Linked DNA regions of Homo sapiens: regions 2, 3, 4, 5 and 6 are each reported to be linked to region 1. Evidence: microRNA targets listed by miRTarBase, many of them from high-throughput screens and not tested one by one. Region 1 holds a microRNA gene; each other region holds the end of a gene's coding sequence.

What was found. Region 1 holds the annotated microRNA hsa-miR-6506-5p (ACUGGGAUGUCACUGAAUAUGGU, at 2,283-2,305, shown strand). A microRNA usually pairs through its seed, bases 2 to 8, with sites in the 3' UTR of a target mRNA and lowers its output. Matches are read on the target gene's strand: a 7mer-m8 pairs with bases 2 to 8, a 7mer-A1 pairs with bases 2 to 7 and ends in A, and an 8mer does both.
Region 2: the mRNA of KCNMB1 is a reported target of hsa-miR-6506-5p. Seed matches in the 3' UTR shown: 7mer-m8 at 2,616-2,622 and 7mer-m8 at 1,207-1,213.
Region 3: miRTarBase lists ASB8 as a target of hsa-miR-6506-5p. Seed matches in the 3' UTR shown: 7mer-m8 at 3,028-3,034 and 7mer-m8 at 2,893-2,899.
Region 4: the mRNA of TBL1XR1 is a reported target of hsa-miR-6506-5p. Seed matches in the 3' UTR shown: 7mer-A1 at 1,253-1,259.
Region 5: the mRNA of MPPE1 is a reported target of hsa-miR-6506-5p. Seed matches in the 3' UTR shown: 7mer-m8 at 1,135-1,141.
Region 6: miRTarBase lists GRM6 as a target of hsa-miR-6506-5p. Seed matches in the 3' UTR shown: 7mer-m8 at 1,478-1,484 and 7mer-m8 at 1,613-1,619.

What each region holds. Positions count from the first base shown.
Region 1 is chr16:15,609,288-15,613,376 of GRCh38, reverse strand. MIR6506 (microRNA 6506) reads left to right here and starts at 2,282; the gene lies at 2,282-2,347. MARF1 (meiosis regulator and mRNA stability factor 1) reads left to right here. Exons shown (of 27, transcript NM_014647.4): 17 at 600-820; 18 at 1,643-1,785; 19 at 2,269-2,402; 20 at 3,652-3,854. RefSeq lists an enhancer at 2,611-2,905.
Region 2 is chr5:170,375,223-170,379,311 of GRCh38, forward strand. It overlaps KCNMB1 (potassium calcium-activated channel subfamily M regulatory beta subunit 1), which reads right to left. Exons shown (of 4, transcript NM_004137.4): 4 at 1-3,751. The coding sequence ends at 3,482. It also overlaps a transcript of KCNIP1 not described here. Among named protein-coding and RNA genes, the nearest start is that of KCNMB1, 12 kb to the right of the region's middle.
Region 3 is chr12:48,145,903-48,149,985 of GRCh38, forward strand. It overlaps ASB8 (ankyrin repeat and SOCS box containing 8), which reads right to left. Exons shown (of 4, transcript NM_024095.5): 4 at 1,887-4,083. The coding sequence ends at 3,464. PFKM (phosphofructokinase, muscle) reads left to right here. Exons shown (of 23, transcript NM_000289.6): 23 at 1-502. Among named protein-coding and RNA genes, the nearest start is that of ASB8, 9.6 kb to the right of the region's middle.
Region 4 is chr3:177,022,038-177,026,126 of GRCh38, reverse strand. It overlaps TBL1XR1 (TBL1X/Y related 1), which reads left to right. Exons shown (of 16, transcript NM_024665.7): 16 at 603-4,089. The coding sequence ends at 629. Among named protein-coding and RNA genes, the nearest start is that of TBL1XR1-AS1, 13 kb to the left of the region's middle.
Region 5 is chr18:11,881,009-11,885,097 of GRCh38, reverse strand. MPPE1 (metallophosphoesterase 1) reads left to right here. Exons shown (of 11, transcript NM_023075.6): 11 at 471-2,476. The coding sequence ends at 653. GNAL (G protein subunit alpha L) reads right to left here. Exons shown (of 12, transcript NM_182978.4): 12 at 1-4,089. The coding sequence ends at 3,963. Among named protein-coding and RNA genes, the nearest start is that of MPPE1, 25 kb to the left of the region's middle.
Region 6 is chr5:178,978,295-178,982,383 of GRCh38, reverse strand. It overlaps GRM6 (glutamate metabotropic receptor 6), which reads left to right. Exons shown (of 11, transcript NM_000843.4): 11 at 530-4,057. The coding sequence ends at 727. It also overlaps a transcript of ZNF454 not described here. Among named protein-coding and RNA genes, the nearest start is that of GRM6, 15 kb to the left of the region's middle.

The DNA of each region.
Region 1 (4,089 bases):
CGACCAGCAAGCCTCTCCACCTTTCTATAAAGATTTCCGTTTGATTACTTATACCTTTTTAATAGGTATAAGCAGTCAAGATGGTGCAAAAACCTGTTCCTTACACCCTTTTATGTCATGCTAATCTTACAACATTATCACTTTCTGTGGTTTTCTGGGTAACGTTTTCAGCTCCACTATGGATTAATTTTGCTCTTCTGGGCCACCTACCTGATGACCATTTATAACTTTGTGGAAAGGTACGTTCCACATGACCAAGTTTCAGAAGGATCTTGGAAATATAACTAGTTTCTAAACTGGGAGCTTCTTGTGTACTTTGACTTCTGCTATAAATAACACTATAGTAGACTCTGCTTTACCTTGGCCGCTTAACTTTGAGGATTAGTGGGACAGCATTTGACAGCCCGTGAATAAGTTAGTTAGCTAGTTATTGGACTATGAGACCTGAATATAGAAACTGAGACGTAAAGCAGCTACTGTATTTGGTTTTGTTTGCTTCCCCATGATCGAACTCAAGCCAGGGACTGCAGGGCCATTTTCCCTTCTTTCAGCTGGTGAAATCTGTGCTTTCTGTCTTATACACGTTCTTTTTCTTCTAGACCCTTGGCTTCTGCGTTCGAAGAGTCCTGTAGGTAACCCCCAGCTGATCCAGTTCAGTAGAGAAGTGATTGACTTGCTGAAAAGCCAGCCATCTTGTGTCATACCCATCAGTCATTTCATCCCATCCTATCACCATCATTTTGCAAAGCAGTGCCGAGTGTCAGACTACGGATACTCCAAGCTGATTGAGTTATTAGAAGCAGTGCCTCATGTATTGCAGGTAAGGCGTGTCACGGGATTACTTGTTTACAGGCAGGAATGTTCCTCCATGGCTTTGGCTGCCTCCATCAAAGAAACAGTTTAATTCCTAAGAAGTCAGTTCTGGGCAGAACATCCACTAAAAACTTTCTTCAGAGGGCAGGAATAACACACACAGGCGGCTTCTCAATTTTTCAGAACGCTGCTAGTTTCCAGTTTTAGAGGAACTCCTTGGAGGACTGAGGAGTATTTTCCCTCTAAGCTCTATAGACCTTCTTCATCCCAGCACAGCTTTCTCCAGAACTGTTCATGATTACAAGGAAGCTCCCATGAATAGCCACATACTTGTATGTTGGTGCCTATGTGAGAGTCAAGGGCTTAACCTTTCTTCTAAATTTAACTAGTTGGAGACAAGTTACTGGGCTAGAGTGTAGCACTGGATCCTATGAAGACTTTTACCAGTTAACTCACAGTGTTATAACAGCTTCCCACTCACTAAAAACGGCTTGAAAAACTTGTAGACCAATTTGTCTGGACAACCAATACAGTTTTCATTTCTGTACTCACGACTTTTCTTTTCAAAAGATTACACTTTTCATTTTTATACTCAACGACTGTTTGGGAGAAGGTGTGCCAGGCCAAAAACGATAAGAGTTTCAGAAGGCCTTGGACATTTGTTCCTTTTGACCAACTACATTTTGTTGATCGACATGTGTTTCAAATTGCACACATTCTACATAAAGGGAGTCATGCTCTGAGGCTAGTAACGAGAGGGTGAGCCAGCAGCAAGGAAGTCGCTGTCTGCTGAGGTCTTATGTGTATAAATAAACTATTTGCTTTGCAGATTCTTGGAATGGGCTCCAAACGTCTGCTGACCCTTACCCACAGGGCCCAGGTGAAGCGCTTTACTCAGGATTTACTAAAACTTCTCAAATCCCAGGCCAGCAAACAGGTCATTGTGAGAGAATTCTCACAGGCTTATCACTGGTGAGTTGATGAAAAGAACAGAAATGAAAGTAAATATTTTAGGACATTTTATCTTCTGCCAAACTCTAAATAGTTATCTAGTATTTCTATTAAGCATTCTTTTGGAAAACTTGTAGTAGTTTTTTGTTTTTTTTTTTTTTTTTTTGAGACGGAGTCTCGCTCTGTCGCCCAGTGGCACGATCTTGGCTCACTGCAAGCTCCGCCTCCCGGGTTTATGCCGTTGTCCTGCCTCAGCCTCCAGAGTAGCTGGGACTACAGGCGCCCGCCACCACACCCGGCTTATTTTTTCTATTTTTTAGTAGAGACGGGGTTTCACCATGTTAGCCAGGATGGTCGCGATCTCTTGACCTCGTGATCCGTCCACCTCGGCCTCCCAAAGTGCTGGGATTACAGGCGTGAGCCCCAGCGCCCGGCCGGAAAACTTGTAGTTCTTCTACCGATGATACTACTCATTCCGTATCCACTTCCGTTGTTAAAACCTAGGTGTTTCTCAAAGGACTGGGATGTCACTGAATATGGTGTTTGTGAGTTGATTGACATCGTATCAGAGATTCCAGACACAACCATCTGCTTGTCCCAACAAGATAATGAAATGGTGATTTGTATCCCCAAAAGAGGTATGTGACTTAACATTTGCTGGAAGGATATTGTCTATCTCCTGTTATTTTAACATAGTGTGGCATGGAAGATGTGGTTTTCCCTCCCTGTCCGTGCTTCCTGAAGATTCCACAGAAAGCACAGTGTGAAAACTGCTGCTCTTTGGATTCTGTGTTCTTCAAAGTAGGTGAAGCTGTTCTCAAGAACAAAAGCAGGCTGGCTTTTTAGAATTGACTCTAAGGGGAAAAAGGGGCATCATCAGCACTTTGCTCAAATGCCTTCTGCAGCCTGGCTGTGGCTACATGAGCCTTAGTCATCCAGTTGAGAATCTGTCACCGTGCCTGTTGGCTTTGCTCTTCTGTTGAACTCTGAGCTACTTTATTTACTGTGCACACTTGAGAAGGGAAGACAACTCGAATGTTTTTTTTTCTTTTGCCTTTCAAATTTTAATAGTTGAAGTCAGAACTGCACAGGTCCAGTTACGGGTAGAAAGTACAGTATTTGAGGGATGCGAAACTCATGGATACTGGGGGCCAATTTTTCGTGTCTGCAGTTTCCGCGGGGCAGACCGCAAGACTTGAGTAGGTGCGGATTTTGGTATCCAGGCAGGGTCCTGGACCCGATCCCTTGAGAACACCAAGGGGTGACTGTATGGTCGTATCCTCCTTCTATTATCTGGTTCTTAAACGGTGCTCCTGCAGAACATTGATGTCCATGAAATCATAGAATTCCAGGGCCCATTCTCACTTAAAAATTAATAGAAACAATCTCAGCTTAAGCTTTCCCTCCTGTTTATTTTTGTTCAACTTTTGAAGCCTGATTCTCTCTTCTGCTAGCAAGTTTTAACTGAAGATCAGATGAATAAACAAAAAAAGTGGGGATATTCAGAAGCGTGATTTCATGGGAATAATTTCTAGAGTACTTGCTTAAGTACAGGGACCTGGGTGTGTGTCATGTTAATAGATATGGGGCAGGGGCTAGAAAATTGTTTCTAGCTTATAAGATGACATTGTTTCTAGCTTATAAGATGAATATATATGAATTTCATAATATAATAATATCATAACTTCCTGGTGTTCTGCCCTGGAACATGTTTGAGAACCACTTGCAAAGAGGGAAGAGTATATGTGTTTGTTTTAGGTTGTGTGTGTTTGGAAGGCAAGGATGATATCGTTTATAAATTCCCAAAAGGATTTACTCTAGTGTGGATGTTGAACACAAATGGGTAGAAAAAAACTGTGATTTTATGTTTTTTGGTTTTTTTAAAAGAACGCACTCAGGATGAAATAGAAAGGACAAAACAGTTCTCCAAGGATGTCGTTGATTTGCTGCGTCACCAACCCCATTTCCGGATGCCCTTTAATAAATTTATCCCTTCTTACCATCACCACTTTGGCCGGCAGTGCAAACTTGCGTACTATGGGTTTACCAAACTACTTGAACTTTTTGAAGCCATACCTGATACTTTACAAGTGAGTGAAGAAATTCTAATTTTATAAAGTATTTTTCTGAACAACGTATAGGAAATACTTTTTCACGTTCCAGACCTGTTTTTCTGGGAAGTAGGGAGTTACGAAAGAGGATGAAAATCTAAGCTATTCCAGTCAGAGAAGCCATATTCCTGACTCATTAGTATTTTTAGATAAATATGGCTTTTTCCTTCAATAAAGGATTATTCAAACTTGTTTTGGGGGTAATTATTGAAAA
Region 2 (4,089 bases), not on the chromosome of region 1:
TTTGCAAAACTATAGTACAATATTACAATTAAGACTTTCTTAAAAGACTCACATGAGGACCTTTGAGACTTCCCTGACCCCAGAAGGAAAAAATTCCAGGGAATGATGAGCTGCCTGCCTTTGGAAGGAAGGTCCACCAGGTAAGAAACTGGAGGCCACAGGGATACCTCTGGGCTCCCTGGCTGGAATTGGCAGATGCTGGTGCAGATGCCAGGGCCTCCCCTCAGAACTCCAACCTGCATGAGGGCACCTGGGTTCCAGGGATGCAACGCAGCTCCCTGCCTGGCCCCTGTGGCTTTGAGTGGCTGTGTCCCTCAGCCCTTCACAGCTGGCTCTGCCCCTCAGCCCTTCACAGCTGGCTCTGCCCCTCAGCCCTTCACAGCTGGCTCTGTCCCTCAGCCCTTCACAGCTGGCTCTGCTGAGTTCTGTGGTTGAGATGCCAGGTACTGGAACACACAGCTCCAGGCTTGAGTCCTAGCCCCTCACTTTACAGATGGCCTTGGCCAGTTACCTCTTACAGCCTCAGTTTTTCATAGTAACTTAGATAGCACTTACCATATGTCACTATCCTAGGAAATTTACATAAAAATTTGTTTCATGCCAAAACTCTATGGAAAGATACTATTATCAGTTTCGTTTTGCAAACGAGGAAACAGGCACAGAAAGGTTATTCGTCCAAAGTCACCCAGCTTGTGAACAGCACAGCTGGAATTTGAACCCAAACAGTGCACATCCCAAGTCCACATACTTAGCCACTGTCCTCTGTTGCTTCTCATCATCTGTGAGGCAGGTTCAGGAGTATCTCATTTTTTTTTCCAAGGCAAACTAATTAGTACAGTGCCTGGCACAGAATAAATAAGCACCCATACATGCCAGATAACATTGTCAGTATAACTTCTGGAAGTTTCTGAGTATTCATGACTTATTCTTTTTTTTTTTTTTTTTTTTTTTTTTTTGAGACAGAGTCTTGCTCTGTTACCCAGGCTGGAGTGCCGTGGCGCGATCTCGGCTCACTGCAAGCTCCGCCTCCCGGGTTCACGCCATTCTTCTGCCTCAGCCTCCTGAGCAGCTGGGACTACAGGCGGCTACCACCACGCCCGGCTATGATTTTTTCTATTTTTTAGTAGAGACAGGGTTTCACCGTGTTAGCCAGGATGGTCTCGATCTCCTGACCTCGTGATCTGCCCACCTCGGCCTCCCAAAGTGCTGGGATTACAGGTGTGAGCCACCACGCCCGGCCGACTTTTTCTTGTTACTAACAATAGCTCTTTTTCCCTGATCCTCTCCCTCCTCCTACCTCCCGCCCTCCAATAGGCCTCAGTGTGTGTTGTTCCCCTCTTTGTGTCCATGTGTTTTCATCATTTAGCTCCCACTTATAAGTGAGAATATACAGTATTTAGTTTTGTGTCCCTGTGTTAGTTTGCTAAGGATAATATTTGGCCTCCAGCTCCATCCATGTCCCTGCAAAGGACATGATCTCCTTCCTTTTTATGGCTGCATAATATTCCATGACGTATACGTACCACATTTTCTTTAATAATGGGTACTAGACTTAATACCTGGGTGATGAAATAATCTGCACAACAAACTCCCTTGACACAAGTGTACCTATGTAACAAACCTGAACGTGTACCCTGCAACTTAAAATGAAAGTTAAGAAAAAAACACACACACAAAACAAACAAAAAAAACTATAGTTGCCATTTTAAACACCTATGATGTGTCAAACATTCCTTCAGCCCTCCCAACTATCCAGAAAGAGTCCTTCTTTTATAGATGAAAAAACTAAGAATCAAAGAGATGAAATCGGGCAGAGTAGAGACAGGATTCAAACCCAAGATCTGCATCTTGGACTCACAACACTGGAAGAAACTTCAGACACCAGCCTAACTTCACACCCAGCTCAGGACTGGCCCTGCCGAATGGTCACTCACCTGCTCTGAAAATCCTCGCGACAGGACGCTCACTTCCTACACCGGTAGTTCTCTGGCTCGAGGTGTGCCACAGAATCCCCTACGCATTGTTAGAACACAGAACATTGCTACCCCCACCCCGTGCAGGGCTTCTGGCGTGGTGGGGCTGGGACAGGGGCCTGAGAGTGTGCATTTCTCACAAGCTGCCACAGGATCCTGATGCTGCTGGCCCAGGGACCACACTTGGACAGTCATCGTTCTAGGAAAACTTCCTGGAGTGGGAATGGTAAAGGTGATGGCTTCTTCCCATTTTGCCCTTTTCAAATCTGAGATAGGCTTCCCCAGCAGGCTCAGTGCCAGAGTCCATACCCTCAATTTAAATAACAAATCCTCCTCTATATCATGACCTTTCCTCCAGAGGGTTGTTTTTCATTTTTTGTTTTTTGTTTTTTTTTTGAGACGGAGTCTTGTTCTATCACCAGGCTGGAGTGCAGTGGCACAATCTCGGCTCACTGCAAGCTCCGAACCCCGGGTTCACGCCATTCTCCTGCCTCAGCCTCCTGAGTAGCTGGGACCACAGGTGCCCACCACCACGCCTGGCTAATTTTTTGTATTTTTAGTAGAGACGGGGTTTCACCATGTTAGCCAGGATGGTCTTGATCTCCTGACCTCGTGATCCACCAGCCTCGGCCTCCCAAAGTGCTGGGATTACAGGAGTGAGCCACCGCGCCCGGCCCAGAGGGGTTTTTAAGATTGTGTGTTCTGAATGGCCTGTCTCTGACTGGAACCCAACTCCGTCCCCAGACCCACTTCCATCTTTTTCTGTGAGGGGGACACACTCTTTCAACTTTTCCAAAATGGCATCTACCATGGCTTTTCTGATTAAAAGCAAACGAAACACACCCTTCCTATAATCAAAAATTTAGAAAAGCAGCAAAAATAAAAAGGGGATAAGGAAGAAAACAGAAATTAACCACCATCCCACCGCTAAAATTTTGATGAGTTCTCATGTGTTTCCTTGCAGCTGATTGTTGTTTGGCATACATTTATTAATATTGGAATTAAAAATATATATGGCACTTTATATCCTAGAAAATAGTAATACTGTAAATGTGTTCTAGAAATGGGAGCTGCTGTTGCTCTTATTAGAGAATTCAAACAAAGAAGGGAGGCTCGCTGGGGACAGCTTCTGGGGGAGGATGGGTACCGCTTTGAGACAACAGGGAGAACTCAGGCACAGAGGTGACGATCATCGTTCTCTGTGGGGCACATAGTGATGCAGCCGGAAACAGGTATGAGTCAGTTGAGTGGGGACAGGTAATAGAGAGCTAGAACTGGCTGGCCTTATGGCCTCCAAGGCATTGGGGAGCCACTGTACATTCTTGAGCAGGCAATGACTTCACAAAAGGATTTCTCAAAGGTTAGTCCTGCAACAGAAGACAGCGTGGATTGGACTGGAAGAGTGGGAGGGCAGGTGGAGAAGGCATTGTGCTGCAAGTGGGGAGCAGCCCTGGGGGCCCAGCCAGTCCCCTGTGCCCTGACAAGTGGTATGGCATGGATGGATGGCTCTACTTCTGGGCCGCCAGGATGGACAGGTACTGGTTGCTCTTCACCATGGCGATAATGAGGAGGCCACCGGTCAGCAGGAAGGTGGGCCAGAAGAGGGAGAAGAGGAGGGCCTGGGGCCCGTAGAGGCGCTGGAATAGGACGCTGGTTTCGTTCCCCCGAGGTGCGGAGAAGCAGTAGAAGACCTGCTGCTCTTGGAATTTGGCTCTGACCTTCTCCACGTCGGCCCGGGCCGTCTGGTAATTGTCCACGCTGCCTGGGATGTAGGAGCACTGTGGGGAGAAACAAGAGCAGCTGTGGGCTTGGAAATCCCCATTTCTTAGCCAAGGGCTTGATATGGAGTAAAGAAAAATACCAGCTTTGTAGTCGGGCCCCTGGATTGGAGTCGGGGCTTTGGTCTAAAGCTTGGCAGGCCATGCGCTGTACAGGTCTGGAGAGCACGCTCTCATTTGTGTCTTGTGTGTGGATGGCGGTGCTGGAGCTGCTCGGGGTACAGGCTACACACCTGGGCGCAGGTCCTACCTTGGAGTCCTGGCTCTGCTTGGATTGGCTGTAGAATTTTTGGCAAATTTCTCACTCTTTCTGAGCCCTGAAGCTTCATCACTTAAAT
Region 3 (4,083 bases), not on the chromosome of region 1:
CATGACTTCTGCCCCAGCTTTATCTGTCACACAAGGCTGGGCACCTCTAGTGCTACTGCTAGATATCACTTACTCAGTTAGAATTTTCCTAAAAATAAGCTTTATTTATTTCTTTGTGATAACAAAGAGTCTTGGTTCCTCTACTACTTTTACTACAGTGACAAATTGTAACTACACTAATAAATGCCAACTGGTCACTGTGCTTTTGCTTCTCCTGTTATCATCTTCCTAAGTGGAATGTAATACTGTCAGCCCCATGTATCAGACACTTGTCTGATGAAGCAGTAAAGACGTTAAGGGTATCACAGGGGGTGGAGGAAGGGATTATCTCTAGTACACTACTTGCTGGCTGTCTGAAAAATTGTCACTGCCAAACTCTAAAAACAGTTCTAAATAGTGACTGAGAAGGTTTGTTGCTGGAGTCAGGGAATAAGGCAGCCAAATACTCTTTGCACAGTTCTTTAGTGGGAAGAGAAATTAACAATAAATATCAAGCACTGTGGTAGGCATTTCATCATTGAATCCTCATAGTAGCTTTTGGAGGGCAATGGTGACAGCCTGACTTCAGAAAGGAGGACACTGGAGCTCAAGGTGATTGATTACATAATGTCTCCTTCAATATTATTCAAGTAGAACTCAAACTCAGTTCTGACTTCAAACCTCATCCTCATTCCCCATTCCTGCTTCCTTATCATGCCATATCAAATCCCCAGAGCCATAAGGCCTATGAAAACAAAGTGAAAGGGAAGGTTCAGGCATTCATTCAGAACATTTTAAATGCTAATTGCCATTGATTTATAGGTTCTCTGTCTCTTTCCTGTCTTTAATCTTAGAGCTGTTTCCTCAAGAAAATGAAGAGGGAAGGATGGCTCAGGGAAAGTTAATCAGAGGGAAAATGTCACTCTGTAAAGAGTAAAAAATTTAGGATGATGATACGATCTGGGAAAAAAAGGCATAGTGAAGACCACTTAAAAACAAACAAAAAAAACCTATGAAGGTGCATGCTATTTCCCCAGAGCTAAAAAGATAAGTGAAATTGTGTTTGAACTCTTAAGTGGAGGTGAAGCAGAATTTATTAGCCACCAACCACATAAGTGATTATGAAGTAACTGAGAAACAGGTAACATTTTTTCCCACATGGACAAAACTTTCTCTTTCTAGAATATTAAGTATCTATGATGAGAAATGAAGTAGCATCTCAAGCAGTTTATAAATCTACCAGAATATTAGAATCACCTGGGACCTTTGAACGTACTCATGCCCAGGTCTACTTTATTCATTTATTTTTTTGTAGAGATGGGGACTTCAACTCCTGGTCTCAAATGATCCTCCCACCTCGGCCTCCTAAAGTGTGAGGATTACAGGCGTGAGCCACTGTGGCCAGCCCTACTAGGTCTGCTTTGGACCAATTAAATCAATCTCTGGGGGTGGAGCCTGGGCTTTAGTATTTTTAAAAATTTTCCTAGGTGGTTCTAATTAATAACTAGGATTGAGAACCACTGACTAACACAGTGGAATCTCATTCCTGGCTATATTTGAAGCACTGAAGCCCCCAGTCCTACCCCAGAAAATTCCAAAGAATTGGTATGAGGTGAAATCTTGGCACCAGTGTTTTTAAAAAGCTTCCTTAGTGATTTTATGTGCAGCTGGAGTTGAGAACATAAAAGCAGTAATTCCAAATTTGGGGTGGGAGAAGGTATAAAGGAAGGGGAAGCTCTTCAGATACTCTGCCCAAGCCCTCCTGTTCACTCCAGCAATGCCCAGAATCACTGCTGCTAATGGGAGAAAGGTTGGGATGGAAAGTTACATAGAACAGCCAGGCAGTAAACGAAGAACTTTTTCTAAGGGGGGTTGGAGAAAAGTAGGAAAAGTAGAAATTGCCAAACTTGCTTTTAGAACTATTTATTCTTTTTTTTTAAGTGATGTTTTTTAAACACCAGCATCAATAGGACAGAAGAAGACATCTGTTTTCCAATTAGCTGTGTCAGTAGATTCCATTCATTGTTTGTAGTTCCCAATCAGCTTTAAAAAAAAAAGTTTTTCAAATTTGCATACAAGTCATCTAAAATCAATAACAACTTGATCTAATTTAGAAAAATGAAAGAGTATCGTTCACTAAAGCAGATCTCTTTTGGGTAGATGGACCATCACAAAAGGAGCTCTTACATGCTTTTCCCACTCCCATCCCAAGTCCACCCTCCCACCAATTGTATTGTATAAATCAATAAAAAGCAAAGGTTCCAGAACAACTGAAAGAAAAATAATTCCAAACTAAGCAGAGTGAACTTTCCATTGGGAATGAAGACCCATGGGAAAAGGCAGCCCAGCCCATAACTCCTCCCTGCTGGAACACACACCGTAGGTGTAGGAACTGCCTGGGAATCCCATTAGAACACACTGTTTCTCAGGAAGAGAAAAAGCTGCATTACAAGAAAAGTTCTCAGGACTTTAGGAGTTCTTAGGACTGTTATTTCAGAGCTATTTATTACTGTTATTACAGAGCTCTTGTTATTTCAGAGCTACTGTAGCCCTTGGGCACAACCAACAGAAAGAGGCAAAGACTGCTGTTTCCTTTGATGAGGGGAAAGAGGTCCAGTCCCTTCCAAATGCCCCAGGACATGGCACAGTAGGGATGTCATCCAGCCCAGTTCTGGATCTGCACCATTTGAGGTTATAGTATCTTCATCTTTGGGACACAATTGCTGTTAGCTGAAATTGTGATTTTCTTAAGTTTTTTCACAGATCAATTAAAATGGTTTTTTTTTTTTTTTTTTTTTTTTGAGACAGTTTTGCTCTTGTTGTCCAGGCTGGAGTGCAATGGCGCGATCTTGGCTCACTGCAACCTCTGCCTCACAGGTTCAAGCGATTCTTCTGTCTCAGCCTCCTGAGTAGCTGGGATTACAGGCGCATGCCACCATGCCCAGCTAATTTTTGTATTTTTAGTAGAGACGGGGTTTCATCATATTGGTCAGGCTGGGCTCGAACTCCTGACCTCAGGTGATCCACCTGCCTCAGCCTCCCAAAGTCCTGGGATTACAGACGTGAGCCACCATGGCTGGCCTAAAATGCTTTCTAGAAGGGATTCTTCTGGACCGTTAACCACGTCCCCAAAGGAAAACCACACACACATTATTTAAGTACTTTCCATCTTCCTAGAGAAATTTAGTTACACTGTTGACTCCTTCCCTAAAGGGGAGGATTGAGGGAGACCTCTTCTTTTGCAAAATGCAATATAAAAAGCCAGGTAAGCAATAAACAGAAAACAAAAGTGAGGGATTTTTTTTGTTGGGTTGTTTGGTTTGGGAAGGGGAGGTGCTATGGAGGTTATTGTTGTGACATGTTGCTTCGAAATCTATAAACCACACAACAGGAACAACTGTTTTTCTGTTTTCTGTGACAAGGAGTACTGCAGGGACAACCTCACCCAGAGCTGCCTGCACGATGGTGCAAACATCTTCTCCGGCTATTCTAAAAGTAACAGGTATTCCTTCAAAGAAGCTGGCAGTGGAAGGCCCTTCACTGCATCGGGGAGATACTGGAGTCCCAGGCTACGGCGCACGGCATAGCGAGCGAGTGTTTTTAGAGTTCCTGGAGCTGAGCACAGAACAGTCAGTTTTTCACATAGCTGCGGGTCTCTGGCCACCTCTCGTGGCATGGTGCCATTTTTCCTCAATTCAAAGTGTCCAACAGCTCTGTGGAGGAGCTCAAAGCAAGAGTCCTCTTTCTCTGTTCCAAGTCCCCTGACTAGCAGAGCCACCAGGCGGGAGATGGGTGTCTGGCCTATTAGGTTGATGACTCTGACCTCTGCGCCATAATCCAGAAGGATGCTGACACTCTCAAGATTTCCCTTCATGGCAGCCCAGCTGAGCGGTGTATCATTGTTGTAATCCAGGGCATTGACAGAGGCCCCGCTCTCTAGGAGAGCCCGCACACACTCAGCATTGTTCTTAAAGGCTGCCCAGTGAAGTGGGGTATCTCTGTTGCCATCCAAAGCATTGGGGTTTGCACCATACTCCAATAGGACCTCCACACAAGCCTCATCTTTCTCTGCTGCATAGTGGAGGGCTGTTCGGTTATACCCAT
Region 4 (4,089 bases), not on the chromosome of region 1:
CATTTATGAAATTAGGTATACCAGAGGAACATTCTGAGAAGGATTGAAATGTTTAATGTGTATTTCTACCTTCTCCTCTTCACAGAAGAATTTTTTTGGCCCAGGGAAGGCAGAACTAGAGGCAGTTGGTTCCTGTGTTGAGGAATGTGTGATACTGAAAGATTTTCAGGATGAGGTTAGCCAACTCTTTACAACAATGCAAATATGGCTTCCAAAGCTGTAGAAGCACCAGAAGGTGGGAAAAGGGTAGCTATTTACTGATGCTGTAGCTGAATATAATCTGTGATATCTTTCATTAGGGTCCAATAGATAGGAAATGGTCTGTTTTGAGCATTTTCCCCCTCCTTTTTAATCAACAGAGAGTATAAAAATCCTAGCCGTGGTTCTTCCCCCACAGTTTGAGCTCATGGTTGTTCTCTTGATCTGCTTAAATGATCTGTCTGATTTCTGTCAGTTAAGTGCTCATTTCCATGATTATTATGCTTTACCAATTTTATAAACTTGGAACTAAGAAACATTTCAAATTGTACTATAGAAAAGTTAAACATAAAATGTACAATAAAATTCTGAATACACTGGTTGATTATTTTAATTTCTTACAGGTTTGTGTATTAGACCTTCGGAAATAGCGCTACTAGTTGGAAGCCATGGACCGACTATGAATGTGTACATAGCCAAAATGACTGTCCCTGACCCATGTACTGCTATAGTCCCACTTGAACCATGGCCAGTCCACTACAGCCAAATCTAAAAGAAATATATACATACAGTGTATATAAACAAAATTGCACCCTGAAGATGACAGAGTTTTGTCACAGCTTGTGAATTCTGTTCACCAAGTGCTGGAATCTAATCTGCTGTGCCCCTAAAATAGCATTTAGAAGTTTTGGATATGAAAAACAGAAGAGAGAAAAATATACATTATAAAAGCAGAACATACATGTACCAGTTTTTGGATACTAAATGACAGCCTTGTTTCTCCCCTTTGAATCAGCAGACACCATGGATTATATTCTTTTTTTCCCTTCAGTAGTGAGCAGTTTGTATGTACAGAGAAAATGGACTTACAAAAACTTGCAGCAGTAGTTTGTTCTTGCTTTAAAATTTCGTTTTTGGTTTAGATTATGGATGCATGAAGTAAGGGAGTGAATCAGTTTCTTGTTTATATTTTTTTCACCTTTTAAACAAAAAATTCTTTAAAATATTTTAATGCATTCTTTTGAAGAGGTAGATGTTTGGTACATTTTATGGCTCCCAGAGCATATATTCAGTTGGTGCATGTTGTGGAAGGGGGAATTGGAAATTAAATGAAAACCTATGACTTTGGTCATGTCAATCTGTAAGACACATCAGTAAAAGGGTATTATGCTCTGTTGGTTTTGTTTTTTTGTTTTGCTTTTTTTTTTTTTTTTTCTTTTTTGTTTTTTGGTGATGTGGCTTAAATGCAATAGTTTCTTTTTTGGGACATATTTCTGCCAATTAAAGACTAGAAGGGCACAACTTTTTTTTTAATTACCATAGAGAAGATACATTAAAAAAAATCTTCTGATGTTTTGTAGCCATAACTAAATTATGGTAAAAATGTGCACTATTGTGAAAAGGAGCAACGTAGTTTTGGGTTTTTTGTTGTTTGTTTGTTTTGCTTTGTTTTTTAAGAGATTAAAATGTTTCTGGATAAGGATTAGCTTCTCGAAGTGTCCATCATTCTGTGTAGAAGCTTAAATATGTAATGTAACCAAACTCCAGTATTAAAAATCTCTCATGTTGTTTTCTTTATACAAAGCAAGATAACGGCATATAACACTGCCATTACATGGCAAAATGTTTGCTACCTTAGTTTAAAAAACAATCTCAAACAAAAGACTTGCTTCAAGGTGTTTTTAAATAGCAGTGATTCAGAATTTTTTTTAATGAAAGTATAATTGCACTAACCTTCTTCCTGCTGCTCTGATTCTGCATTTGTGGTACTTGTGACTACGTTTTTTCAAATATAGATAGATTTAAGCTGCTAATTTTTTTTTTTTTAGTAATCACTACTATATCATGTCTTTTACTCTGTTTATAATATCAAGTATTTTCTTAAAGATATAGATATTAAACCTTGTGCTCATGCAACTTAGAGTAACATATACAGACAAATGATTGCATGAGGCCATGTTTATATGTGTGACTAATAAGGCTTGTCATGATTAACATAATCCAGGTATGTCATTTCTGAAGAGAATAGTCATCAAATTTATATCTCGAAGATTTTAATTAAGGAATTGCTTATTGTTGAGCTTAGCAAATTAATAACACTATTTCTGTCACTAATTATTTTGAGGCCTTTTAGTACTAAAATTTTAACCTGTGTTCTAAGTAGAAACTGATTTAACCCAAGTAATGCAGCTTTGATTGATTTCAGCATTCGTTGCTTTGCTATTTTTACAAAACAGCATTGATTGAAGCAAGTCTTGGTTTTACTAAGGTAGGGTAGCATTTGCTATTGGTAAAGAGAATAAATACACTTAATTTCACAATACATTGTTATATGTACCCCAGTTGTTGTTAGTGGGGACTATGATACTGTAATAATATTTTTAAAAATTTACATCAAGAGAGGCAGTCATTCACGATGGTTTTGTGCCAGCTCTTTTTAGGGTTTTGGATCACATTAGAGATATTTAGAACATATTACCCTGTGACTTACGTAGGAAACCTAATATGCTGAGTATCTGGCACTTGAATTCCTGCTTTTATTGCTGGAGGTCCACATCTGTGGTTGACCTCTGTTATTGTTTAAAAAAAATAAATAAAAATTAAAAAAATCTGTGCAATAATTTTAAAATGTGCTCCCAGGAATAGACACAAATGTTTTGAGTATCTTTTAAGCTGCATTTTCCTTTAGTGATGCATTTGTCAATTGCACTGAATTTAAATCTGAAAGTCAGAGGTGATTATTGATAGTACTTTTGTATTTTGATATGGACAGTTTATTCATTTGCATACAGTTATTGACTTTTTCCCAGCTGATTAAAAGATAGTCAAGAAATTCTGCAATATAGCTGCCAAAATAGACAGCTACATTTTTATGATATTGTCATCTTTTCTGTTTTTTTTTTCTTTTTTTTCTTTAGCTATTTTACTTAAGCATAATAGCCACAATAGGACATATAAAAGATTATAAATACAGAGCTTTATTATCCTGACGTCTTGGGTCTTTTAAGTATATACTTTTCTGAAAGGTATCCATTTTGTAGGCTTGGGTTCTTCATGAGCATACGATTGTTTATTTTTGCTGCTGTTCTCAACATCATCATTGCCTGCTGATGTGCCACGATGCTGCTCCAATAGACAGCAATAAGATTGTCTCTAATTTGAGCAGTAACATGATTGCAAGAGACCAAGTTTCACAGCTTGTAAAGTTCTGTATTTGGGATTCTTGCTTATTTTTCCGCCTGTGTTTTTCTGAGAACTTATTCCTGATGATCAATTGAATCCAGTAGTTTTTCTATGCTATTTGTTGTTGTATAAGCTACTGTAAGAAACTTATCATAAGGAAAAATAGAAAGGAAAACTTGAATCAATACTCATTGATTAAAATGGAATAAAGAAAGAGCAGCTGCCACTTTTAAACAACATAAAGGAATATCTTTTTTTGTCTCCGTGTAGGAAATCCCATAAGTTCTTATATTTGTTCCAGTTCCCATTTCCTGCCATTGACCAGATAACATCATTGACTTTCAAATGACTTTTAGAAGTGATAACTCTTAATTTCCTAATAGATACTAGATTGTATTGAATTCTGTTTTAATTATTCTCTAGGTAAGTATGTTTTAGGATTAAATACCTTTTACAGATACTGAAAGTGCCTCCTTTTGTGGTGTAAAAAACAAATTATGGTGCAAAAAGTAATCACTAGATTGAAATACATGAAGGTTTTTTGCTTTTTGACATACGAAAATGTCAAGAGAAAGGCCAAAGATTTGTACTTTTTCACTTACAAAGCACTCCTTTTTCCCTTAAACTTCTTTCTGTCAAATTAGATTTAATGAGAGAGTACTATTTTTAAGGAGCTATCTGTTTATGTAGAATGATTTTGTTAAGAGT
Region 5 (4,089 bases), not on the chromosome of region 1:
AAAGTATCTGCAAAGAAAAGCCCATGGAGACGACCTGGACACATGTATTTCTAGGGAACAGATGCTTAGTTGAGCATCAAGGGGCAGGAAGACACCTTTCCCTCCTTGTTCCTCGCTGACCGATGACCCTGGAACTCCACGGTGCCTCTCTGAATCTCTGTTATGGATCCCCCACTATATTTGATGGGAACCCAGTGAGCCAGGGGCCAGTTTTGACAGGTCAGTGTCCCAGACATTTTCCACTCAGGCACACTTGGGCCTTACTTGTCTCTCCTGCTGGAGCCTGGGCTGGTCGGGGGTGAGCTGTGCAGGGAGAAGGCTGGGCCCCCTTGGTCTCAGGTGAGGAGGGCCCGTTCCCTGCCTCACCTGAGGGGGACCTGAGAAGGCAGTCTTCCCTCTGCTGTTTCTAAGACTGCGGTGTTCAACGTGTGCCTGGTGCTCTCAGCATAACTTTCCCTTCTCCTTTCCAGGGTAGCATCACGCCCACAGACTACACCCTCTCCAAGTGCTACCTCCCACGTGAGGATGTGGTTTTGATCATCTACTGTGGAGTGGTGGGCTTCCTTGTGGTCCTCACACTCACTCACTTTGGGCTTCTAGCCTCACCTTTTCTTTCTGGTTTGAACTTGCTCGGAAAGCGTAAGACAAGATGAAGAGCAGGCGCCATTATAAATATCAAAGCCCAAGAAATGGAACTTTGGGCAGAGATCATGTTAGAATCAAGTGGATGATGAGACCAATTACAGGCCGTCTCTCTGCACAGCACAGAAATTCTCAATCACTGAAATGAGTAACTGCAAAATAAATAGTTGATTGTACTGTTCTCATGCTATAAAAGTGGACAGGTACTCTACAACAAATCTGTTTTCTCATTTTTATCAAATATATGTATCATCAAAGGTTGCATCTGTACAGTATGTAAATGCTATTAATGTCGTCACTCACATGCACGACAGTCCTTGTTCCCCCAGGAAGGGCCTGGTGGCCCCAGCACACACTTGGGATTATGTGTATACATAAATAAATATTGGGCTGTTTCCCTCTTCCTGTGAAGTGGTTCTCAAATTCCTATGTACTGTAAAGCTGTACCCTTAAAAGTACAGATGTGGCCGGGCACAGTGGCTCACACCTGTAATCCCAGCACTTTGGGAGGCTGAGGCGGGTGGATCACTTGAGGTCAGGAGTTCAAGACCAGCCTGGCCAACATGGTGAAACCTCGTCTCCGCTAGAAATACAAAAATTAGCCAAGCATGGTAGCAAGTGCCTATAATACCAGCTGAGGCTGAGGCAGGAGAATCCCTTGAGCCCGGGAGGCGGAGGTTGCAGTGAGCCAAGATCATGCCACTGCACTCCAGCCTGGGCAACAGAGTGAGACTCCGTCTCAAAAAATATATTTAAAAAAAAAAAAGTACAGATGTGATGTGCAGAACATATTGTTTTCGTAGATTTTTATACTTGATCAATTAATGGAATCAGATTTTTAGATAAGTGTAATTTTCTCTATAGGAGACCACGTTGCTACATCTGTTAATGCCTGTCAGTGATCAAAAGAAACTTAAAAAGTGGAATGGGATATGGCTTTTGGTACCTGAAAATAAATGCTTTAATAATTGTAAGCCAGATAAAAGTTATTCTTTTTGTTTTTTTTCTTAACAGTCTGGCTGTTGTTTGAATTAAACTCTTAAACAGGATGTTTAGTTAGAGGGTAATTGTTGAGTAATGATGCATACAACAGCATACTTCCCTTTCTTGCTGGGGGTGCAGCTTTTCAGTTTTCTTGTTTTACTTTGACAGTGCAAGGGGAACTGAAAATAATTTCCATTGTATTATTTATCTTAGTTCAGCTGAGGGCTTTATGAGACAGTGGATGGGGAGGCAGTAAGACGGTGATGAGATAAAATGTGTGTGTTGCACTGACTGTCTATAAAGTTATCCTTTCTTCATGAAAAAGTAGCATTTAAATCTGGATGAGTTTATAAAGGATTACAAAATGCTGATTTATAGAGTAAACTTTAAAATATTAAAGACTAAAGACTAAAAGAAGAGTAATAATGAAGTAATGTAGGCTGTCACTTCTCTAGATTTGTATTGTTGAAAATTTAACTTTGGACATCTTTATAGATTATTATTTTAGACCTACAAAAACTACCCTCAACTCTGTGGCTACAGCTAGAATATGAAGCATCATTGCTACACCAGTTCTTACTTTCTAGATATTGTTGGTGTGTCATAATGTTTGAGGCTGTATTTGTAAGTCTTGCAAGTGTGAGAAAGAGCCGTATCTTTTGACTTTATACTTCAGATTAAGGTTTTGTAATGTTTCTTCTTCAAAAGGCAAGTGAAGCTGTCATCCTCATTCTCCTAGGCCAGACACAAACATTGACACGTCAAGGTTTTTTTTTTTTTTTTTTTTGGCCTGAGTCTCACTTTGATGTCCAGGCTGGAGTGCGATGGCACGACCTCGGCTCACTGCAATCTCCACCTCCCAGGTTCAAGAGATTCTCCTGCCTCAGCCTCTCGAGTAGCTGAGATTACAGGTGCCCGCCACCACGCCTGGCTAATTTTTGTATTTTTGGTAGAGACAGGGTTTCGCCATGTTAGCCAGGATGGTCTTGATCTCCTGGCCTCGTGATCCGCCTGCCTCGGCCTCCCAAAGTGCTGGGATTACAGGCGTGAGCCACCGCGCCTGGCCACATTTTGTTTTTCTCTTACTGTTTGCTTACTTGTATGACGTAGCCTGTGTCCAAAGTTTTGACTAAGGGAATGATGGACCTGTTCCCACTTGGGGAACTTGAAGAAGTGTTTCATTAGCAGACTAATGAGGAAACATATTGTCTAGAGAGAGAGAAAAAAATCCCTGGTTCCCTGAAAAGATTAGATTGCAATTTGTACCCCTGAATTGAGTTCAGGTTTTTACAGCTCAGAGAAGTAACAGCAGGTGGTTGCAACAGCTTGTGATGTTGGTACATTGTCGATAGAATGTGGATGATTAACGTGTATAACTTACAATTTTTTAAATCAGGGAGTATTTTATAAAGTGCCAACCTGATAAAATATCCTAAATTCTACAGCTACCATTCATTCCTTTTTTCAGAGTAAGCAGCAGGTAATGTTGACATTAAGCTCTTCAGCACAATACAAACACATTTCATGTACAGGTATAGATAGCCATGGTGAAGGCACAAAGATCTACAAGGATTTTTCTTTAGTAGTTATACAAAAGAATATTACATTTTGTGGTCTGTACAGTGTAATAAACCAGCAATAGGGACAACAACAAAGAGAATCTAAGAAAGAAGACTATGCCTAAGTATAGGGAAAGTTTAGAGAATCATTTTTAGACAGGACACATTTTGCAGTAGTGAATGTGGTAGGTTTTCTGCCTAAGAGGCTCAAAGTAGCTCTAATTCAAATGCCTGAGGCCAGCAGCGACTCTGAATGTGACTGTAAAAGGGTTTCTGGTCACTCTGTCGCTTGGGGTCGACTCCAAGTCTTGGGCTAAGGCCAATGGGAAGGGACCATCTCTCGTCAGCCTGCAGCTTCATAAAGGGAGAATCAGAGACGGCCGTGGCTCAGGGCACTGCACGAACGCTCTTGCAGTCACGGTTGATAACGTGGAAAAAAAAACCAACTGTGTTTTCTCCCCATCTACCAAGTTCTCCTCGATGAATCAATAAAGGGAGAATGAATAATGGGGCTCCCACCCGGAGAGATTCTGCTGCAGTGTCGGCAATGAGAGTCGGTGGTTTGGGGGTGGGATGCTGCGGGAGGCCGTATTCAATGACAACAGAAGCTACACAACCAAACCTGAGGGGACAGAGGTAGCCAGAGGCTTGGTGGTCGACACAGAACGGGACAGACGGCAGCGAGATGGAACTAGAGACTCTGCCTCCTACCATGGCATGGGGCTGGCAGTCAGGCAGTCCGGGGCGCCGCTCCGTCGCAGGGTGGCGGCAGCATCCTCACAAGAGCTCATACTGCTTGAGGTGCATCCGCTGGATGATGTCGCGGCAGTCGTTGAACACCCTGCGGATGTTCTCTGTGTCCACGGCGCAGGTGAAGTGCGGGTAGCAGTAATGTTTGCCGTCA
Region 6 (4,089 bases), not on the chromosome of region 1:
CTGGTCTCAAATTCTTGACCTCAAGTGACCCATCTGCCTCGGCCTCCCAAAGTGCTGGGATGACAGGCGTGAGCCACTGCGCCCAGGCTTCATGTGCTTTATAACTGCCAACCCATTAATGCGTCAGCCCATTGCTGCATCATTTATTCACGTATGCGGCAGAATATTTTATGCACCTGTCATCCATTTATTTGCCCATCTGCTCCTGAAGTTTGTCTCTGCCCATTTATTCATTTGTATGTATTTGAAACGTGCTCATTCACTGACATGCCCCGGCTCCCGCTTCCCCAGGTGTCTCTCTGTTAATAACCCCTCCTCACCCCTCCCTCCTGCCCACACCAGAGCTGCATGGAGGCTGCCAGCCCCTCAGGCGCGGGGCCCCTGCTCATACTGTTGTCCTGGTCTAAGTGCTCATTCCCAGTTCCCCAACTGAAACAGACTCAGCTCCAGAGTATGTGGTGAGGACTGTGTGGAGCGGGGCAGGGAGAGCAGGGCTGAGTCCCATCTGGTCCCCTCTTCCATGGCCTAGATCTACATCCAGACAACCACGCTAACCGTGTCCTTGAGCCTGAGTGCCTCGGTGTCCCTCGGCATGCTCTACGTACCCAAAACCTACGTCATCCTCTTCCATCCAGAGCAGAATGTGCAGAAGCGAAAGCGGAGCCTCAAGGCCACCTCCACGGTGGCAGCCCCACCCAAGGGCGAGGATGCAGAGGCCCACAAGTAGCAGGGCAGGTGGGAACGGGACTGCTTGCTGCCTCTCCTTTCTTCCTCTTGCCTCGAGGTGGAAGCTGTATAGAGCCCGGGTCCACGGTGAACAGTCAGTGGCAGGGAGTTTGCCAAGACCATGCTCCGCGTCGGTGGGGCTGGCCTTGAGAAGGAACTGGACCCAGCTCTACCCCGATTCCAGCATGTGAGCTTCATGCTTCCTCACCACAGACCAGACTCGCTTCCCATGGTGGGAAACAGCCACCGAGAAGGTTCTAGCTCTAGAAAGGGACTAAACTTATTCTCTCATCCGAAGTCCAAAGAGGATGATGAAGCCCTGGGCTTTGCCTGGTTTGCGGGAGATTTCCTCCCCTCAGTCAACCCCCATAACCTGGGGATTGGGCAGTGTGGAAGAACGTGTAGACCCCAGAATGAAACATGGGGTTGGAGTGGAGGAGGAGCTGTCTCAGCAAGAGGAGACCTGGGGCTGTGCATCTGGATGGAGGCACTCAGGCCTGGGTAGGATTCCTCTGGCACGGAGGGAGAGACCCTGGGTGAGACCCCTGTGAGCATGGGAAGGGCCTGCAGTGGGCGCGGGAGTGAGCTGAGGAACTGGGGTGCGCCCCCATGAGATTCCCAATGCCATGGGCTTTCCCCCATCCCCCCGGGATTGGGCAAGGTCAGACTTAGAGTACAGCTGTTTTCCTCCCCTCTGTGTACTCCCTTAAATCACCCCAACCTTGGCCAGGCATGGTGGCTCACACCTGTAATCCCAGCACTTTGGGAGGCCGAGGCAGGTGGATCACCTGAGGTCCGGAGTTCGAGACCAGCCTGGCCAATGTGGTGAAACCCTGTCTCTACTAAAAATACAAAAATTAGCCAGGTGTGATGGTGGGTGCCTGTAATCCCAGTTACTTGGGAGGCTGAGGCAGGAGAATCGCTTGAACCTGGGAGGTGGAGGTTGCAGTGAGCTGTGATTGTGCCACTGTACTCCAGCCTGGGTGACAGAGCGAGACTCTGTCTCAAAAAAACAAAACAAAAAAACACCAAAAAAACCCCCAAACCTGAAGAAATTCAGATACACGTGTGTAATGTTAGTGATGTGAGAACAAGGAGCAGGGGTGCATTTGTGTTGTGTTCGGGTTGGGGATGGGTTTAGGAGCTCCAGGTTGGGAGCAGTGACAGAGAGTCATGGCCGTGGTGAGGGTGAATCCCAAGTGGATGGCTCAGGACGGGTATGGAAACCCTTCATTCCTCATAGGTACTGGGAAGTCCATTTGCAAGCTGAGCGCCAGGCCTGGGGAGGAAGAGGCTTGGGCTGCAGATGCACGCACATTTGTTTTTCACTGATAGTTTTTACAAAAAGCTTGGTTTAAGTTATGGAGTTTTATGTCCCTGGGAGTAGAATTTACATTTGTTAAATTGACCACTGTTTAAGATCAGTATACATTCTCTAGTCTGTGATGTCTGGAGCTAGTTTTGAGGGTGAACCACACTTTATCCAACATACAAACTTTCCCATGCAGCTTCTCTGGTGCGCAGTTGGTTTTGACCGTGGGACTAGGTGCTTCTGCAGGTTTTAAGTAATTAACTTAAAAGCTTCTCCTCTGAGAAACATTTCTGTTGCGCTACTGACTCTCCTTCTCCACATTTGTTGTGTTCCTAGGGCTTCTCTATAGTGCACATTAGGACGTTTCATTTGTTGCTGAATGCTTTCCAGAATTATTTATTCCATAGGGTTTCTCTCCTGTGCAGCTCTCTCATGGGTAATGGGGCGTGTTTTCTTGCCAAAGGCGGTTCCACCCTCGTGATTGTATAGGGCTCTTCTCCTGTATGAACTCTGAGATCAGTGAGCTCTGATCTCCAAGGGAAAGTTTTCCTGCATTTGCTGTTTTCTCATGTCTCTCCCAGTGTGAATTCTTTGGTGTGCAGTGCGCTCTGGCTTCTAGCTGAAAACTTTTCCACAGTTTTACATTCATGTGGTTTTCTCCACTGTGAACTCTGTGATTCAGAATCAGAAGCAGTTCTTAGTAGAGGCATTTCTACACTGATTGCACTGAGGATTTCTCCCCAGTGTGAAGTTTCTGGCATAGAGTCCTGGCTTCCCGCAGACGACTTTCACACTCTGCCATGTTCATGCCTGTGGGCCTCTCTGGCAGGAACTCTGATGCACCGCGAGGCCCATGTACTCCTGTGGCTTTCTCACATTCGGTCTACTTGCAGGGTATCTCCACAGCATGCACCATTCTGGGTACAGGGGGACATCCTCTGTTACTGAAGATGTTGTCATATTTAGTACCTTCACAAGGTTTCTCTCCTTCCAGAATTTTCTGATGTACACAAATAACTGACTTCCACAAGAGGGCTTTTCCACACTCGGTGTGTGCATACAGTTTCTGCCTGTGATCATTTCTTTATGTTATTATTTTATTTTTTCGAGATAGGGTCTTGCTCAATTTCTTAGGCTGGAGTGCAGTGGCACGATCATAGCTCACTGAAGTTTCGACCTGGGCTCAAGCAATCCTCCCGCTTCAGCCTCCTGAGTAGCTGGTGCGCACGACCATACCCAGCTAATGTTTTATTTTTTGTAGAGACGAGGTCTCACTATGTTGCCCAGGCTGGTCTCGAACTTCTGAGCTCGAGCGATCCTCCTGCCTCCACCTCCCAAAGTGTTCGGATTACAAACGTGAGCCATCGCACCTAGCCTCTTTGATCATTTCTGTGGTGTTCAGTGGAGGTTGACAGCTCCCTAAAGATTTTCCTGTTTTTTTGCATGCATGGGTTTGAATTCTTTGAGGTCCAATTTATTTGGACCCCTGAATAAAGTTTTGTGGGTTTTCTTCTATGTGTGGAATTTATAAGGCATTCTTCCAGTGTGGTTTCTCTTATGTCGAGTGAGAGCTGACCTGCACCGAAGGTTTTGTCCCATTTGTTGCCCTTGAATTATTTGTATGAATTATATGTTCCAGTGAAAATGGAGTTCTGGGTTGGAGGCTTATTCCATGTTTACACAATTAAAATTGCAGTGTTCCTCTCTGGGATGAGAGCTCTAAAGCAGAGTAAGATTACGTTCTGATGTAAGCTTTAACCACCTATTTATAAGGTCTCACCTGTGGTCCACTGTGTTGAGACTTCTACAGAAGAGCTTCTGTATAGTAACCATTTTCTTAGGCTGTCTCACTTGTGTGAATCTTCTGACACATTTATTATAGCTTTGTCCCATTTCTTATCCTTTTTGCTCTTTAGAAATTTCCCTTTAATTTATTACATTCATTGCTTACTGTAAAGAGTCCAGGTAACTGACTTTATTCAGTTACTTCCTGTTCAATAAATTTAACTTTTCCCAAAAGTTTGACTTAGGTCTTCGGTTGCTTCTTTATA